2 separate regions of the Homo sapiens genome follow, and region 1 is linked to region 2. A link means that fine-mapping ties the variant in region 2 to the expression of a gene that starts in the linked region. Tissue or cell type: esophagus mucosa. Region 2 holds a variant in brackets; the other region holds the start of a gene. All regions are shown on one strand. Distances are between the middles of the regions.

What was found. PIP is the estimated chance that this variant, and not a neighbour inherited with it, causes the effect.
Region 1: WNT11 starts here. The variant in region 2 is fine-mapped to the expression of WNT11 in esophagus mucosa (GTEx, PIP above 0.99).

What each region holds. Positions count from the first base shown.
Region 1 is chr11:76,202,433-76,210,508 of GRCh38, reverse strand. It overlaps WNT11 (Wnt family member 11), which reads left to right and starts at 4,007. Exons shown (of 5, transcript NM_004626.3): 1 at 4,007-4,184. The coding sequence starts at 4,102. It overlaps LOC112268079 (a long non-coding RNA gene), which reads right to left and starts at 682. Exons shown (of 2, transcript XR_002957259.1): 1 at 590-682; 2 at 1-244. RefSeq lists silencers at 1-2, 2,655-2,874, 3,855-4,094 and enhancers at 215-881, 1,214-1,263, 882-1,548, 2,883-3,550.
Region 2 is chr11:76,268,252-76,276,425 of GRCh38, reverse strand. No RefSeq gene overlaps it. Among named protein-coding and RNA genes, the nearest start is that of TRP-TGG2-1, 36 kb to the right of the region's middle. The variant C/T (reference allele first, on the strand shown) is at 4,139.

The DNA of each region.
Region 1 (8,076 bases), 66 kb after region 2:
CGGGCACGCAGGGCGCGCCTGGCGAGCGCCCCGGGAGGTGAGCAGTGGTCGCGGGCAGCGGGCAGCCGCTCAGCGGGGACCCGCCAGGGCTGGGGGCGCCCGAGTCCGAGGGGGACGACGCTTCTCGCACCCGCCACGACCCCCTTGGGCACCCACTCCCGGGTAAGCAAACCAAGCGCTCCTCCATACCTTTCCCCCGCAGCACTCCGAAGAGTTCCCCTTTGCGGAGCGAAGCCTCGGGAGCCTGGGGACGCGGGGTTTAGGGGCACGCGGGACGGTGGTGGGTTGTGCAGTTCCTGCGGCCCTCCTCGAACTTTCCCGGCCCGGCCCCCCTCTTCTGCCCCCGCACCCCAGGCGACCCCCTCCTTCCCAGTCGTTCGGCGGATGAGGTCATGCCCGAGCCACCCCCGGGGGTGGGGGACTTGGATCCCGCGACAGAGGGTGTGTGTGGTGGGCGGGGGGAAAGGGTGGCAAAAGGCAAAGAAATGCGGCAGCGCCTAGTAAATTGGGGATGGGGGCAGAAGCCTGGCTTTGAGAACGGGTCCCAGGGGCGGCGGGGGGAGGGGGAGAACCGAGTTTGTTTACTGACCTGAGCTCCAGGCTGGGGGCTAGGGAGGAGGAAAGTCCTGTCCCCGGCCCCGAGGCACATCTGCAACCGCCCGGAACATCTGGCTGAGCTCGCGCACGAGCTCCACGCCTCCCACCCCCGGGGCTGAAGTGCCTCGGTGTCCCTCAAGGCCCTGGGCGTGCAGGGTCCGGCTCCAGGGGGTTAGCAGGAGGGATCTCGAGTGCTCCCACCCACCCTTCCCACTTCCAAAACAACCCGTCTCCCGGGTGACCCGGCGCCGCGTGCGCAGCCAAGCAGACGTCTCTCGAAAGCCTCACGGCTGGGGTCAAAGCCGGGTGGCAGGCCCGGCCTCGCCCCGCCCCGCAGGTAACCTTGAAGCCGTCGCTCGGCGTCCCTGGTTGGCGGGGTCAGCTCCGTGAGCTGCGTGGCGGGAGGCTTCGGGACCCGCCCGTGCCGACCTTGCGCGCCGCGCGGACAATCGGCCCCGGTGCACGGTGCCCGTGGGGCGTCGGGGTAGGGGGGACCCCGCAAGTCCTCGCCGGGCCGGCGTGGCCTGGTCCCAGCGGCCGGCTTTCCAGAGTCCTCCACAGACCGGGCCTATGACCATCTGTTGGCGGCGCTGGGCTGCGGCGCTGCGCTCGTGGTGTTCTCCCTGTGCACAGCCCCAGGCGGCCGCCTCCCGGGCCCGCTGCAGGCAGGGTAGCTCGGACCAACTTCGAGGAGGTGACCGCTCGCTCTCCAAAGGTGCTACGCCTGGCGCGGCCCACTACGCGCCCGGCCCCAAGCAAGGGGCCGGGCAGGTCAGGGCGGCCCACGGCAAGTGTCCTATAGAACGACCAGGACACAGGGGGCACTCCCTCGACACGTCGTCCCATCCCCAGACGGAGAAGCGGGGGCCCAGGAAGAGGACTTGACCCCAGCCCGCGACGCAGGAGGCAGCCGCGATTCCCCCCTCCTCGAGCCCCGGCTTAGCGCCCCCTGGCGGGCTGGGGGCTTCAGGAGGCGCGTGCACCCTGACCCGCGAGCTCAGGCGGAAGGTGACCCCGTGGCCTGCGCGGCTGTCCCGGGCGCTCGTACAAGGGACAGGAACAGTCCGTCAGGACCCAGAGGCTCGGGCCAGGCGCTGCCTCCCCGCGCGACGAGCTTGGGCGGCGGAGGGAGAGCCTTGGGACAGCCGGGGCTGCACCGAAAGAGCTGGGCGGGGCTGGAGGCCTGGGTCCCCGTCCGCTGTGCGACCTAGGGGGCTCCTCCTCTCCCTGGGAGACCAGGCTGGACACAGATCCCCCGCTGTGAGTCCGCGCGCCTCCGTCCTCTTGCAGCCCCCGCCCCCTCCCCACCCAGGAATGCCGGGTGCCTTCGGGGGGCGGCGCACTTTGGGAGAGGGGAAGACGGTGACTGGAGTTTTGATTCCCCCCTCCATATCCAGCGGATATTTTTCTCGTTCTGAGAAGTGCAAGAAACTTGCAGGACCAGGAAGACAAAGGATTTGGATACAGGCTGGGTGGGAGGACGGGACTGGGTTACACCGAGAACCCCTCTGAGACCCCCAGCCTTGACGGCATGTTTGTCGCAGGCGCCCCTGTGCTGGGCGCTAGCTGCGGGGCTCTGCGGAGGAAAAAAACTGTACGATCCAGGCTTCTCCTCGCCTTCCTGTGGGTTTTGCCGACAGGCTCCAGAAAACAGTGGGGCTTCCCATCTCTGCGTGCTGACTACCCACGCGCAGGAACGCGCCACGCAGGTGGCGTCGCGGTGCAAATAGCAGAGGGGCGCTGAGCCCCGCAGGCTGCAGGGAGACGGGGTCCTCGGGGGACGCACGGCGAAGCCCCATTCCTCGTTCTTATGGAAGGGGACACCGAGGCTGGGGTGGCTGAGGGCTTGCCCAAGCTCACAGAGCCAGATAAGAACGTCCCTTTTCTGCTCCAGCGCCCCCACTACCGTGGGCGCCTCCTTTTCCAACTCCCCAAACCCTTAGAAAGGAATCCCTTTGTCTCTGCTCCTCCCGAGGGGAGAGGGGCTGGGGCTGTGTCTGACTCCGGGCGAACGCCAGGTGTTGGTAAATTTGGGAGAAGCTGGGAAGGGAGTTAATGAGGTGAGAATGAAGTGAAGGAGAAAAAAAGCGGAGATAGCTGCTCCGCGGGCTGCGGGCGGGCGGGGCAGCCTCTCCTCCGCGGCCCGAGGGCGCCGCCTGGAGGCCAGAGGCAACACCGCGCCAGCCCCGCGAGCTTCCCCGCTTCGCTAAGGCGGGGCTGCCCAGTCCCAGCCCGCATGCTTCCACTCCCACCCTCCAAAGTGGAGCGGCTAAAGACGGACTTGGAGACTCGGAATCCTCACTGTACAAAGAGCCCTACCATCCCGTTTCCCATCCTCCCCTTCCCACACCGAGAAAGCAGGGCCCCGAGCAAGCCCCATTTCCTGATTTCGCCGGACACCCGGCTTGCCGCTCCCTAGCTGAACCCCACCTCTGTGCCTCAGTTTCCTCATCTGTGAGATGAGGCAGCGATAGTGCCTATCTCACGGGGTGCTGGGAGGAGCAGATGCGATCGTGTTAGGGAACTTTTTTTGTTTGTCTGTTTGTTTGAGACGGAGTTTCGCTCTTGTCGCCCAGGCTAGAGTGCAGTGGCGCAATCTCCGCTCGCTGCAACCTCCGCCTCCCGGGTTCAAGCGGTTCTCCTGCCTCAGCCTCCCGAGTAGCTGGGATTACAGGCGCCCGCCACCACGCCCGGCTAATTTTTTGTATTCGTAGTAGAGACGGGGTTTTGCCATGTTGGGCAGGCTGGTCTCGAGCTCCTGACCTCAGGTGACCCGCCCGCCTCGACCTCCCAAAGTGCTGGGATTACAGGCGTGAGCCACCCTGCCCGGCCAGGGAACGTTCTTTATAAAAGCGGAATTGTGCCCGAATTGCCCCAGCTTACTGAGGAGGTAAACTGAAACACGTTTGGGAAGGAGAATTGCCGAGGCCCTATTAACTAATGCTCAATATTGCAGGGATAAGCCCCAGCTCCGGGTCCTCGACTCTGCTGCCTCGCCTGGACTCCTGATTCCTCATTCCTCTCCTTTCCGTCCCAGGTTGCGTCTGTCCGGGTTTCCCCCTCTGTCTCCGTGGCTCTCAGCCTTGTCCTCTGAGCGTCCTTCTCCCTCTCGCTGTGTCTGCCCGGTCTCTCCTGGGTCTCCGGTTCTGCCGCCTCCTGTCCCTCCTTCCGGCTGCCCCGGCCAGAGGGGCTCGAAGGCGCGTTGGGGCCCGGGGCCACGCTGGGAGACACGCCTTCGGCCGCGCCTAATTCGAGCCAGGCGCGGGACGCGTCCCCCGGCCGGGCGGAGCGGGAGGGGACGCCCGCCGCGCTCGGCCTCCCCGGGCCCCGACCCCTCCTTTGTAATTTGAATAAAACGCCTCCCCCGCCCGCGCGCCGCCTTAACCCGCCGCCTCCGCTCTCCCCGGCTGCAGGCGGCGTGCAGGACCAGCGGCGGCCGTGCAGGCGGAGGACTTCGGCGCGGCTCCTCCTGGGTGTGACCCCGGGCGCGCCCGCCGCGCGACGATGAGGGCGCGGCCGCAGGTCTGCGAGGCGCTGCTCTTCGCCCTGGCGCTCCAGACCGGCGTGTGCTATGGCATCAAGTGGCTGTGAGTAGGGACCCCGCGTCCACGCGCACAGGCCAGGGACTGGGGCGGCGGAGGGCGTTTTGGGGTCCCCTGGATGGGGCGAGCGCACCAAGACCCGGGAGCCTAAGCTGGCTTGGCGGTCGTGGGCAAGTCATCCCTCAGCCTCTGTTTCCTCCTCTGTAAAATGTCCCTGCCTCCCGCAGGCTTGCGAAAAGGGAGTGAGACGGGCGTGGACCACAATGGAAGCGCCTGGTCCTGTGCAGCTGACGGTGGCGCAAGGGCCACGGAGTTTCTGGCCACCTCCGCAGGGGCAGATGGAAAAAGACATTCTGTTCAGGGGGCGCAATCCAGAGCGGCCAGCCCAGGAGCGGTCCTTGTCCGTCAGTCTCCTTGACCCTAGCGGGAGTTCCGCTGAGACACTCCTGACCCCTCCACCTGGGCGACCTTGGGAAAGTGTCACTCTACTTCTTGGGGCCTCCTTGTCCTCCTCTGTCACGGGAGGGTGAGACTCCCCACCTCCCTCAAATCAGATGAGAAGAGGCTCCTGAAAGGACCTCAGAAGCTGTCAGATGCCACTGTGCACATGTGCAGGGCATTCCTTTAGATAGAAATTATTCACGCAGGGGTAGGAGGGAGAGAGAGGCTTGGTGCCGAGCTGAAGGGAGTGCCTGCTCAGGGGGCTGGGGGTGGTGAAGAGAGGAGTAAACACCAGCCCCTTCCCGGAGGAGCTGCGCTCTAAGTTGAGAGAGATAAGCCCAGGCTGTAAATAACTCCACAAGTGTCCAAGTGCCCGAGGAGAAACCAGAGCGGGAATCTGGAGGCCTAGAGGAAGGAAGCCCACCTGGTGGGGACACAGATGTGAGACACCGGGAAGCTTTTCCGAGGCTGTGCCTCTGGTGACTGAAGCGCTGCTGGGAGTTGGCTGGTTCGGGCAATGGAGAGGACGCTGTGGGCAGAGGGGCTCCCTGAGAGGGAAAGTCCAGGACAGGACAAGGGTCTGGAATCTGGGGCCAGGGCAGGGAGCCTGCAGATAAGACAGCAGGGGGCAGGTTGTGGGGGCTGGGGAGGGCGCTGCAAAGGGTTTGTGAATTAGTTGGAAGACAGGGTGATAGTGGCTGCGCCGCCAGCAAACAGTCTGGAGGTCACTGGCCCTGCCCCTTCTCAGGCCAAGTTATTGATTAATTGACGATTCGAGGAGGGAACCCCGTCTTCCTGCCTTTCTTGTTTACAAGAAGCCTGGTCTCAGCAATCTCCCAGCCCTGGGCACTAGCTTTTCCCAGCTGTCCCTGAGGAGTTCTGTGAGAAACCAGCCACCTTCCTTTTGCAATGGGGTACCCAGCACTGTTCCAGCTGGCAGGGACCTCCGATCAGCGAGTCCAAGCTCTCTCATCCACCGCCACCATTTTACAGATAAGGATACTAAGGTCCAGGGAAGGAGAGGATTGGCTGAAGGAGCGTCAGAGGCCTTGCAGTGGGCTTGGGTGTCATTTGCCGCCCATAAGAGTCCTGTGGGGTCACTGCCATCATCCCTGCTCCACAGTGGGAACACCGAGACCCTGCAAAGGGCATGATGCACGCAAGCCCCCACGCTGGCCTGTGGTGGGATGGACGGCTGGCTAAACCTGACGTCCATGTCCTCTGTCCCCACTGCAAAGTCAGGCTGCCACAGAAATGGGTACAACTCATTGTGTGCCTTAAATAAGCCCCCAGGCTCTTGGGGGAGATGGACATATAGAAATACAAAGTGGACTATGGTCTGTGTCCTAGCAGAGGGAGCATGGCAGCCCAGAGGAGGAGTGATCAGTTCTATCTAAGGGAGATGCATAGGCCAGGATTGGAAGGACAGGGAGGATTTGGATGGTCAGAGACGGAGTGCAAAGCAGGCGTCCTAGGCGGGAGGCACAGCACGAGCAGAAGCCTGGAGGCCGAACAGCGCATGCGGGGAGACCTGGAGAAACCAGGCACCACAAGAGCCTACTCCTAAGTGCCCCAGACGCTGCTCCGAGAGCTTGGGTCATGTAAGTTAGATCATACTGCACTCCTATGAGAAACTGATAGTCTAGCAATAGGGGATTAAAGTCTTGCTAGAGTTTAAGATAGAGGGGGAGGTGGGAAAAGGGGTGGAGTTTAAGAATAACAACGATCTGTGTATGCATGTGTATATATAGATACACGTGTGTAGGCCACGTGCATATATCTATGTATATGTACATATATGTCTACACACACATGGCCTCACTTTGTGCTAGGTGCCGTTCTAAGTGCCTTATGTATATTGTTCCATTTAAATATCCCAACCACCCTGTGAGGTGGGTGCTGCTATTACCCCCGTTGCACAGAAGAGGAAACAGAGACTGGGGCACACAGAGATGGGGGACTCTACCTAGCAGGGTGTCACAGCTCAGAGGTAGTAGAGGCAGGATTTGAGTTAAGCTGCCTAGCTCTGTGGACTGTTGGGCACAGGGAGCCCCAGCACAGCTGGGAGCAGGGAAGTGTTCAGTGAGGCTGGAAAGCCGGGGACTCACCCAGGAGCCTCCGCTGGCCTGGGCTTTGGAGAGTGAGCTGGAGATGAAAGGGGCACTTGGCACAGGAACTGAAAGCCAACATGGCCCAGTGGCCTGGAATGCTCACCTGGTGGGTGCCTGGGACGCAGGCTGAGCTGGTGGGATGGGGGCTGGGGAGAGGGGATCAGAACCTGGCTGCCCATAGAGGCACCTGCCCAGAAATAACCTGGGGATCCTTCCCTACCTTACCTCCACCCAGGCCAGGCACCAGAAGACTCCCAGCCCCTCAAGTATTCGGGGTCCCAGGTCTGGGCTGTCCACCCCCTTCTTGGCTTTCCTGGGTAGGGGGAGGGTTTGAGGGGAGTCCCACTCTCCTGTGAACCACGGAAGCGGTGGGGTGAGAGGAAAGGCCCAGGCCGGTTGGGAACATCCATAAAGGCCGCCCCCTTCCCTGGGCAGTCCCACACCTGCCACTCCCACGGAGGTGGGGCCAGGAGGCTCTAGAGGGCCATGGCGCTGCAGAGTAGGGTGGAAGGAGCGCCAGACTGGGACTGCAAGGCCCAGCCTGAGTTCTGCAGGTCAATCGCTTTAGCTTCTCTGAGCCTCAGTTTCCTCAGCTCTAAGATAGAGGTAGAAGGAGCCCTACCTCAGGATGCAGGAGGCCTGGGGTCTAGCTTGTCTCTGCCTCTGATTGGCTGCGTACAGATCTGGGCAAGCCCTGCCCTTTCCGGGCCTCAGTTTCCCCACTTGCACAGTGGGAGTTCATGATGCTGTGGCAGCTGCCGTTTGGTTTCTTGGTTGAGAAGCATCAGACCAAGGCCTGTTAGGGCTTTACCTTTGCAAGATGGGCTGCACAGGTGGGTCAGCATGTGTGAGGCCAAGGGGACAGGCTTCCATCTCTGAGGTCTGGGCAGTCAGGTGTGAAGGGGACCCAGTGTCATTTCCAGGCAGGACTGGATCTGCAGGCTCAAGGCCCTTCATCAGCCTCCATTTCTCTATCTATACAGTGAGGACAAGGGCTGGACTAGTCCCTCTTCACTCTGGAGTCCTGGGACAAAGCCCAGGAGGGAGAGAACAGGAGGACTCTCAGGCTGTGGGGCCCCAGGGGCTTCTTCTTCCTGAACGGGCAGCTGCAGCCCCAAGCTGGGATGGCTGGTGAAGAAGGGGCACTTCCGAGGTTCCTAGACCTCTCCCCGGTTCCTAGACCTGGTGCCTAATTGAAGAGTTAATTGAGGAGTCGTGGAGGGAGAGCTTCCCCAAGGTTGCCCCAGGGGAGTAGACGGAAGCCTGGGGAGAGGCTGGGCTTGCCTGGGTGGCCTAGAGCCTGGGGTCCTGCTCCATCCTCCCTGCCACATGGGCACCAGCATGAGGTGGGGCCCAGGAAAGCCCAAAGAGACACGGGGAAAGGA
Region 2 (8,174 bases):
GCCTCACTTGAGCTTCTCATCAGGCCTGCATTTTACCCCTGGGAAACTGAGGCTTGATGAGGCGGTAGTCCCGGCTTTGCCATGTGACCTTAGGCAAGGCACCTCCCTTCTCTAGGCCAATGAAGAGGTCAGAGGAGACGTTCCCCTGGGTCTCATCTGCCCTCTGGAGTCTGTGTTTAGGTTTTGTGGTCTGGCCTCTGGGATCTTGACTGTTCCCACTCAGTTGGGGGGTGTAAGCCTGGGCCTGTGTGTGGGTTGCGTGTGTTGGGGAGGAGGGAGGCAGTTGTTTTTGGTCATCAGCTGGCCAGGCCAGCCCCTGGGGGTGCATCCTCGGAGCCCTATCTCTACATGAACTTTCTCTCATCCCCAAATTGCACACAAGGCACTTTTTGGGATCGATTTACCTCCCCTGTGGCCCCCCTGGCCCATTTTACATTTGTCAGGAAGAAATCGGAGGAGCCATAGCTGCCCTCCCTCACCTCACCCACCCCGGGGACATTCCAGGATTAGACAGGAGTGGAGGTGACAGCACAGAGAAGAATAAATCTTGAAAGACAAGGTTCCACATTTTCTCCATTTAGTACAAAGCAATGCATTCCAAAACCCAGTTCAGCCAAGGGGAGCGTGGAGGCTGGAGGCAGGAGAGGAGGGCAGAAGTCTAGATTTTGATAAACAGAACCTGCTCCCCGTGAGTAGGGATGCTCAGCCTGGGCCCACCAACAAGGCAACTGTGTCCTGGATTCATTGCCCGCTGACTGGCCAGAGTCTGACATTCTGGCCGCCCTCCACTGGCTATTCTAGCCACCATCCATCAGGTCATGCAAGGCATGAGGCCAGGAGGGAGCAGGGAGGCCTGGGGCTTTGCAAGGTGTGAGCCTCTGTGGCTGGAGGGTTTCAGCAGAGATAAGAGGACCACTGGGCGAGGAAGTTATATGAGGACCCCAGCCCGGCTCCAAGTCAGACAGGCGAGGGTTTGCCTGTTGGCTCCCTCTTCCACTAACTGGTTGCCTTTAGCAGTTGTCTGTTACCTGAGCCTCTGTTTTCTCATCCGTAACCTAAGGATGATTACACCTTCTCCCAAGATTGTTAGGGGGACCAAAAGTGGCAGTGTCTGTTCCATTCCCAGCCGGAGGCATAACAGTGGGAACAAAAGGAGTATCGTGGTAGTGGGATTTGCTGTGTCGCTGTCTCACTATGGTCACTGTAACAAATTCCCACAAACTCAAGGACTTAACACAAATGTATTACCCTACAATTCCATAGGACAGAAGTCCAAAATGTACTTTATTGGGCTAGCATCAGAGTGTCAGAACTGCGCTCCTTTACAGAGGCTCTGGGGAGATCCTGTTCTCTTGCCTTTCCCAGCTTCTAGAGGCTGCCCGCACTCCTTGGCTAGTGGCCCCCTTCCCTCCTCAAAGTCAGCGATGGCTGATTGAGTCTTTCCTGCCTCCCATCACTCAGACACAGACTCTTCTGCTGCCTCCTCTTTCACTTTCAAGGACGCTGTGCTTACAGTGGCACACCAGGTAATCCAGCATTATCTCCTGATTTTAAGGTCAGCAGACTAGCACCCGATTTCCGTCTGTGATCTTAATTCCCCTTTGCCATTTAACATAACATAGGCACAGGCTCCAGGGATCAGGCTGTGGACATCTTTCGGGTGGGGAGCATATTCTGCCTACCACTCCATTCAAGTAACTCATTTCTCCACCCAGGACAGGAAGACTTTGCTGTCCCTGTTCATCAGGAACTGGTGAATGCTGTGGACTGGTAGCGCCGTGTGCTGCTTTCCTTTCTTCTCCCTTTTCAGTAGGAATTGTTATTGCAGTTACCCAATTCTCTCTGCCATTATGGAGTCATGGTCTGTTGGAGGGATAATCTTTCAGCCACAGATTGCAAGACCTCAAGAATACATCTAACTCTGAAGGAAAATAATATAAGTCACCCAGAGATTCTGAACTCAGTATTATGAGTCTCTGATTTGTCTTCTATTTGAGAGAGGGGAGGAAGTGGGAAGGTATTATTTTGTGTGCAAGTAAAGGCATGCATAAATGTCAGCCCTCAAAGGGGTGGACTGTGTGGGCAGTTATTATCTTGTCCTCAACATCCTTTCCCCTTTTATTCTGGTGGCAGGACTCTGCTTTTGCTCTAAGGTAATTATTCCTCTCATCCACTCTTCCCTACTCATTGGCTCCTATATTTCAGATAGTGTTGTCCCCACCCCCAACTCCAGAGCTCCAGAGCTGGCCGTGAGACATAGGCCCCGTCAGTCAGAGCTTCACATATTCCTGGCCACAAGGACTTGTTCACAGATGGACTCACGACCCGTTAGAAGCAATGGGTTACATATTTGAATGCTTGCTGGGTCTACTGACAAAGGAGGACTCTTAACAAAATTTTTTTTGGCTGGACCTGAACCTGGAAGTTAATTTTATAGTTATCTTTTCACCACTTGGAGCCTAAAAATGAAGCCAACATGGGAACCAGGAGAACCGAGAGATGGAGCGAGCAGGTCCTGGGGGCAGAATTTGAGCCCCTAGATAAAGCCATGCCTGAAACTCTCATGCCCTTGGACTTTGCAGTTAGATGACTTAATATTTTTCTTTTCCTTCTTTGTTTTTTTGACTAAGCCAATTTTTGTCACTTTATGTGGCAATGAGATTGTTGATTATAAATCATATGCTTTAGCACTCTGTCGTTTATTTTTTGTTTATTTTATTTTTTGAGACAGAGTCTTGCTCTGTCACCCAGGCTGGAGTGCAGTAGCACAATCTCAGCTCACTGAAACCTCCGCCTCCTGGGTTCAAGCAGTTCTCCTGCCTCAGACTCCCAAGTAGCTAGGATTATAGGTGGGTGCCACCATGCCCAGCTTCTTTTTTTTTTTTTTTTTTTTTTTGTATTTTTAGTAGAGATGGGGTTTCATCATGTTGGCCAGGCTGGTTTCAAACTCCTGACCTCAAGTGATCTGCCTGCCTCAGCCTCCCAAAGTGCTGCGATTACAGGCGTGAGCCACCATGCCCGGTGCACTCTGTTGTTTATAAAGAGCATTTATATTCATACCTCATTTAATCACCACCTTAAGCTCACAAAGTAAGAATTATTAGCCCTATTTTTTTTTTTTTTTTGAGACAGGGTCTCACTCTATTGCCCAGGCTGGAGTGCAGTGGTGTGATCTCAGCTCACCGCAGCCTCCACCTCCTGGGTTCAAGCGATTCTCCCGCCTCCAAGCAATTCTCCCGCCTCAACCTCCCAAGTAGCTGGGAGTACAGGTGCGTGCCACCACACCCGGCTAATTTTTGTATTTTTAGTAAAGATGGGGTTTCTCCATATTGGCAAGGCTAGTCTTGAACTCCTGGCCTCAAGTGATCCACCAGCCTCGGCCTCCCAATGTGCTGAGATTATAGGCCTGAGCCACCAAGCCTGGCCTATTAGCCCTATTTTATAGTTAAGATAACTGATCCAGAGAGAGGAAATGTGATTTGTTCACAGTTGTGGCACATTAGGTAAGGGCTAGGGCTAGGTTTTCTAAGGTGATAACTAGTGTTTTTTCTCCTCTCTTGTGTCACCTTCGTGGAAGGTGAGGAATCAGAAGTTCTGGTAAGAAGTGGAGTTTGAGCTGAACCTTGAGGAATAGGTAGGAGTCCATTAGAAGAAGACAGGCCAAAGCTTTGGGGAGGGAAAGGGCAGGTGTGATGGAGAGAGGTGGGCAGTCTAGGGCCCATTGAGCCAGGCGATGTGAGGACAGGCACGCAGGTGGACAGGCAGCACCACCTCACTGCTGAATGGAGGGATTGCTACTTAAAAGTCCCCAGGGGCTGGGCACGGTGGCTCACACCTGTAACCCCCAGCACTTTGGGAGGCTGAGGTGGGAGGATCCCTTGAGGCCAGGAATTTAAGACCAGCCTGGGCAACATAGTGAGACCTTGTCTCTACGAAAAATAAAAACATTAACTGGGCATGGTGGCTCGTGGCCATGGTCCCAGCTACTGGGGAGGCTGAGGTGGATTACTTGAGCCCAGGAAGTTGAGTGAGCTGTGATCACACCCCTGCACTCCGGCCTGGGTGCCAGAACAAGACCCCATCCCCTGACCTCCACCCAAAAAAAGCCTCCCTGGGGATGTATATGAGACGGAGATGT[C/T]TAAGGAGGATAACGGTGGGTGCAAAGGGGCAGGGAACCAGGGCTGGATATTCAGGTCCCAACATCTGGGAGCACTGGCTTTGGAAGAGGCTGCAGGGTCTGTCCTGAGTTCCACAGATCACACAACGCGGAGTGGTGCCCACTTCACTGTTTCCAGAGGTGACTCTTTTGTTTCAGGTCTGGAGAAGGGGCCCACTGCCATGTTTTCTTGATGTCAGACAGTCCTGGGTTTCCATTTTGCCCCTTCTGCCTCCAAGATGTGTGACATTGGATGACTCACATCACCTTTCTGAACTGCAGTGCCCCATCTGTAATTACATCTTAAGCTCATAAAGTAAGAATGATTAGCCCTATTTTATTTTTTTTTTGAGACAGGGTCTCACTCTGTTGCCCAGGCTGGAGTGCAGTGGTGCGATCTCGGTTCACTGCAACCTCTACCTCCCAGGTTCAAGCGATTCTCCCACCTCCAAGCGATTCTCCCGCCTCAACCTCCCGAGTAGCTGGGAGTACAGGTGGGCGCCACCACACCCAGCTAATTTTTGTATTTTTAGTAAAGATGGGGTGCCCCATCCGTGGTGAGGATCATCCGCAATGAAAGTAAAGCATGGTGCTTGGCACTAGGTGGGTGCTCTGCGAACTGCGGCTATCACCACCACCTTCACCTTCATCGTCATCATCATCATAGTGGTCTAGACCCTCTCCTTCCATTCTTTCTCCCACTACAGCCAACACACAAGAAGCCTGATTCTTCTCACGGGCGCCTTTGGGCCTGGAGTTCTGTTTCTGGGCAGCTTGGAGCCGGGAGTCCGATTCCCTGCCCTGTGGAAGGAGACATTCAGTCCTTTGACTCGGGCCACTGTAACTCTTACCGTGACTGCAGGTCAGCACTTGTCCTTTCGTGCTTGTCCTCCTTTTCTGCTTGCTCCTCATGGGGCAAGCCTGTGTCTGTCTTGATCGGTGCCTCGCTCAGTGCCTGGTGTGTAGAAGAGGCTTCCTCAATGTTTGCTGGAAGAAAGGCTGAATGAGTGACCTGTGATTGAACTCCTGGAGTGAAGCAGAAGGCCTGGTGCCGTGGCAAGGCCTCCAGCCTCTGGGTTCCCTGGGAGGCCCTCCACTGACCTCCTGTGAAGAGGTGGTGGAGCAGGAGGAGCTGGTCCCGGCAGCTCTTCGAGATAGGTAAGATTTATCCTCATTTTAGAGTTGAAGAACTGACGTTCACAGGGGCCTGCCCATCATCAGCCTTCCAATCACTGGTGGCTGGGACTTGATCCAAGATCTGTGCCCAGGCCCTGCCTCTCTCAAAGCCCATCCACTGCTAATTTCAGTGCCCACAAATCTTCATGTTTATTTTCATCTGAATGTTTTATTTATTTCAACCATGATTTCTGTTTACAATAGAGGCTTTTGTTCTTCAAAATGATATTGGATAAACCTAGAAAAAGGGGCGATCATTCTTGAAGTGTTTTCCAAAGCCTATGATGATGAAGAGCTAGACTGGGGTGCCAGCTCCTACTATTGTTCTCCAAGACCTTAATGAAAGTCATTACACAAGTGAGCTGCTAACCTATAAGCAAATGTGTCAACCTACGTACAATCAGGCAATTCCCTGATCCCCATTGGCTATTAGCCAAGTGCTGGATATTATCCAGCTGAGTGGGTTGCACAACACTCTCCCTGGAGGGGTATTGTTGGATGGGAGGGATTTTCTAGCTTGTGACTTGGATGAACCTGGAGTTATTTCCCTATTGAGCAGCCCCAGCCTGAGAGGCACCAGCAGCCTCTGCTGAGGGGTGGCTGGGACAGAGTGGGGGTGTGGGCTGGCCCAGTCTGTCCATGCCTGGCCTGGTGGTGTGGCCCTCAGAAGTCTCATTAGGATTTAGCTCTACATAGTGGCCCAGGAGAGCTCTCTGGAAACCCAGCAGCCATGCTGGGGAGGGGGCCTGGTTTCCAGGGAAGCAGGGCACCCTGAGCTCAGCAGGGAGAGAGGGCCAGAGCCGGAGGAGAGGCCGGAGCAGCAGGGGAGGAGACCTTGGCCCTTGGAACTGAAGGGCCCAGGGTGGGGGGAGGACGCCATGTGGGAAGAGGGCAGGAAAGGGGGATTTGGCACAGGCCTCTGCTGCCTGGTCTCAATTTAGTTGTGAGGAGCCTCCTAATAGCCGGGTGAGAGCTGTGCACGCTTTCCTGAGAGCCTGCTAAGTGTTTATGGAATGATTTGTGAGGAGAAGTTTCTTTGGAAGCAGCTTGGGGAAGGTATGTTATTAAGAGCTCTTTCTCCAAGTTCCCCTTGGCCCGCTTCCCCCCTGGCCCCTGGGGTCTGGGCAGCCCTGGTCACAGCAGCTGTTTGCTATTTTGTAGGCCATGGGGCTGGGGAGCACACTGGGGCTGGGGGAAGATGGGGAAGTGGGGTGATTTCCTCCTCCCTGAGGCGGTGTAGGGCAGCCGAGGAGTGCTGGAACCACGGTCGGGAGTCTTCCTCTGAGCGGGAGCATGGCGTTCGCCACAGGGGCCCCAAAGGAGAGAGGTCAGCGGGCCAGAGGCAGCTGAGAGGTTACAGGCGATGGGGACAAAAGTGTAGCCACTAGCCATCTAGCAATGTGGAAGTCACTGGGGGTAATATGGACATGCTAAAAGGATGAGATGGGCCCATGGTTTGTCCACCAGACTGGGAGCTCCCTGGGGTCAGGGAATGTCTGATCATCTTGATGTCCTCCAGTGTCACTGGATACTTGGGGCTGGCCCAGGGCAGGGGCTCGGCTTGGTGAGTGGCGGGCCCCAGAAGGGCCTCTGAGCAGCTACTGACTCATTCACCTTCCCCCAGCCAAGCATCCCGCCCAGAGCAGGGTCATTCTAGCCAGACCAGGACACAGTGAGGACACTGGGCCAGCCCTGGAAGTTCAGTGAACTCTGAATCAATCTACGAATCGTCCTGTCAGCAGAAATTTGCCCAACCTGGTTGCCGCAGAACAGCCTGTATACCATCAGGTGAGAGCAGCTGGCTACATAGGTCTGCCAGGAAGGAGCCAGTGACTGGCCAATTCTGATTCTCTGAGACCCCTACCAGGACATGTGGACCCACCATGAATCTTTGTCCCAACCTACTGGCACAACAGCCTTGGGATATTAGAGTTTTTTAATCTCTGATTTTATAGCTGAGAAAACCAAAGCCCAGAGATTAAAGCCACACAGCTGAGGTCACACCATGAGTACCTGCCCAGGTAAGGATCAAACTCAGGTGCTCAAGACCAAAGCTGGTAGTCTTACCTGTAAGGTACATGGCCGAACACACCCCACTCTGTCATCTCACTTGGCCCATTGCATTGTCATTGTCTATGATGTCTACCTATACGTTTGACTCCCCACTTACCTGACAGCTCCCTGAGAATAGGAGTCAGGTTGGCTTCATCCTTGGTCCTTAAGTCCCTGTACAGTACAGGGCCTGGCACAGAGGAGATGGGTGGATGATGGATAGATGGGTGGATGGATGGGTGATGGGTAGATGGATAGATGAATGGATGGATGGAGGATGGATGGATGGATGGGTGGATGGATGGGTGATGGATGGATGGGTGGATGGATGGATGATGGATGGATGGATGGATAGAGGATGGATGGATGGATGGATGGAGGATGGATGGATGGATGATGGTTGGATAGAGGATGGATGGGTGGATGGTGGATGGATGGGTGATGGATGGATGGATGGGTGGATGGTGGATGGATGGGTGATGGATGGATGGATGGATGGTGGAGGGATGGATGGATGGATAGATGGATGGTTGGATGGGTGATGGGTGGCTAAACTCTAGGTCAGAATTTGGAAGACAGAATTCCAAGTAGAAGCATCTTCATAAGCAAATTAGCAAAGCTCACAGCATGGTGGGGGTCTTAGAGAGTGGTCTTCCTATAGTGAAGAGGTGTGTGCCTTTGTAGCAGTGATCTCAACAGGTGTCAAGTACCGCACCAAAGGACTGTTCTGGCAATTTGCGGGAGTGGGTTTTAATGTTATGATGATTGAGGGTCTCCACTGGCATTTTGC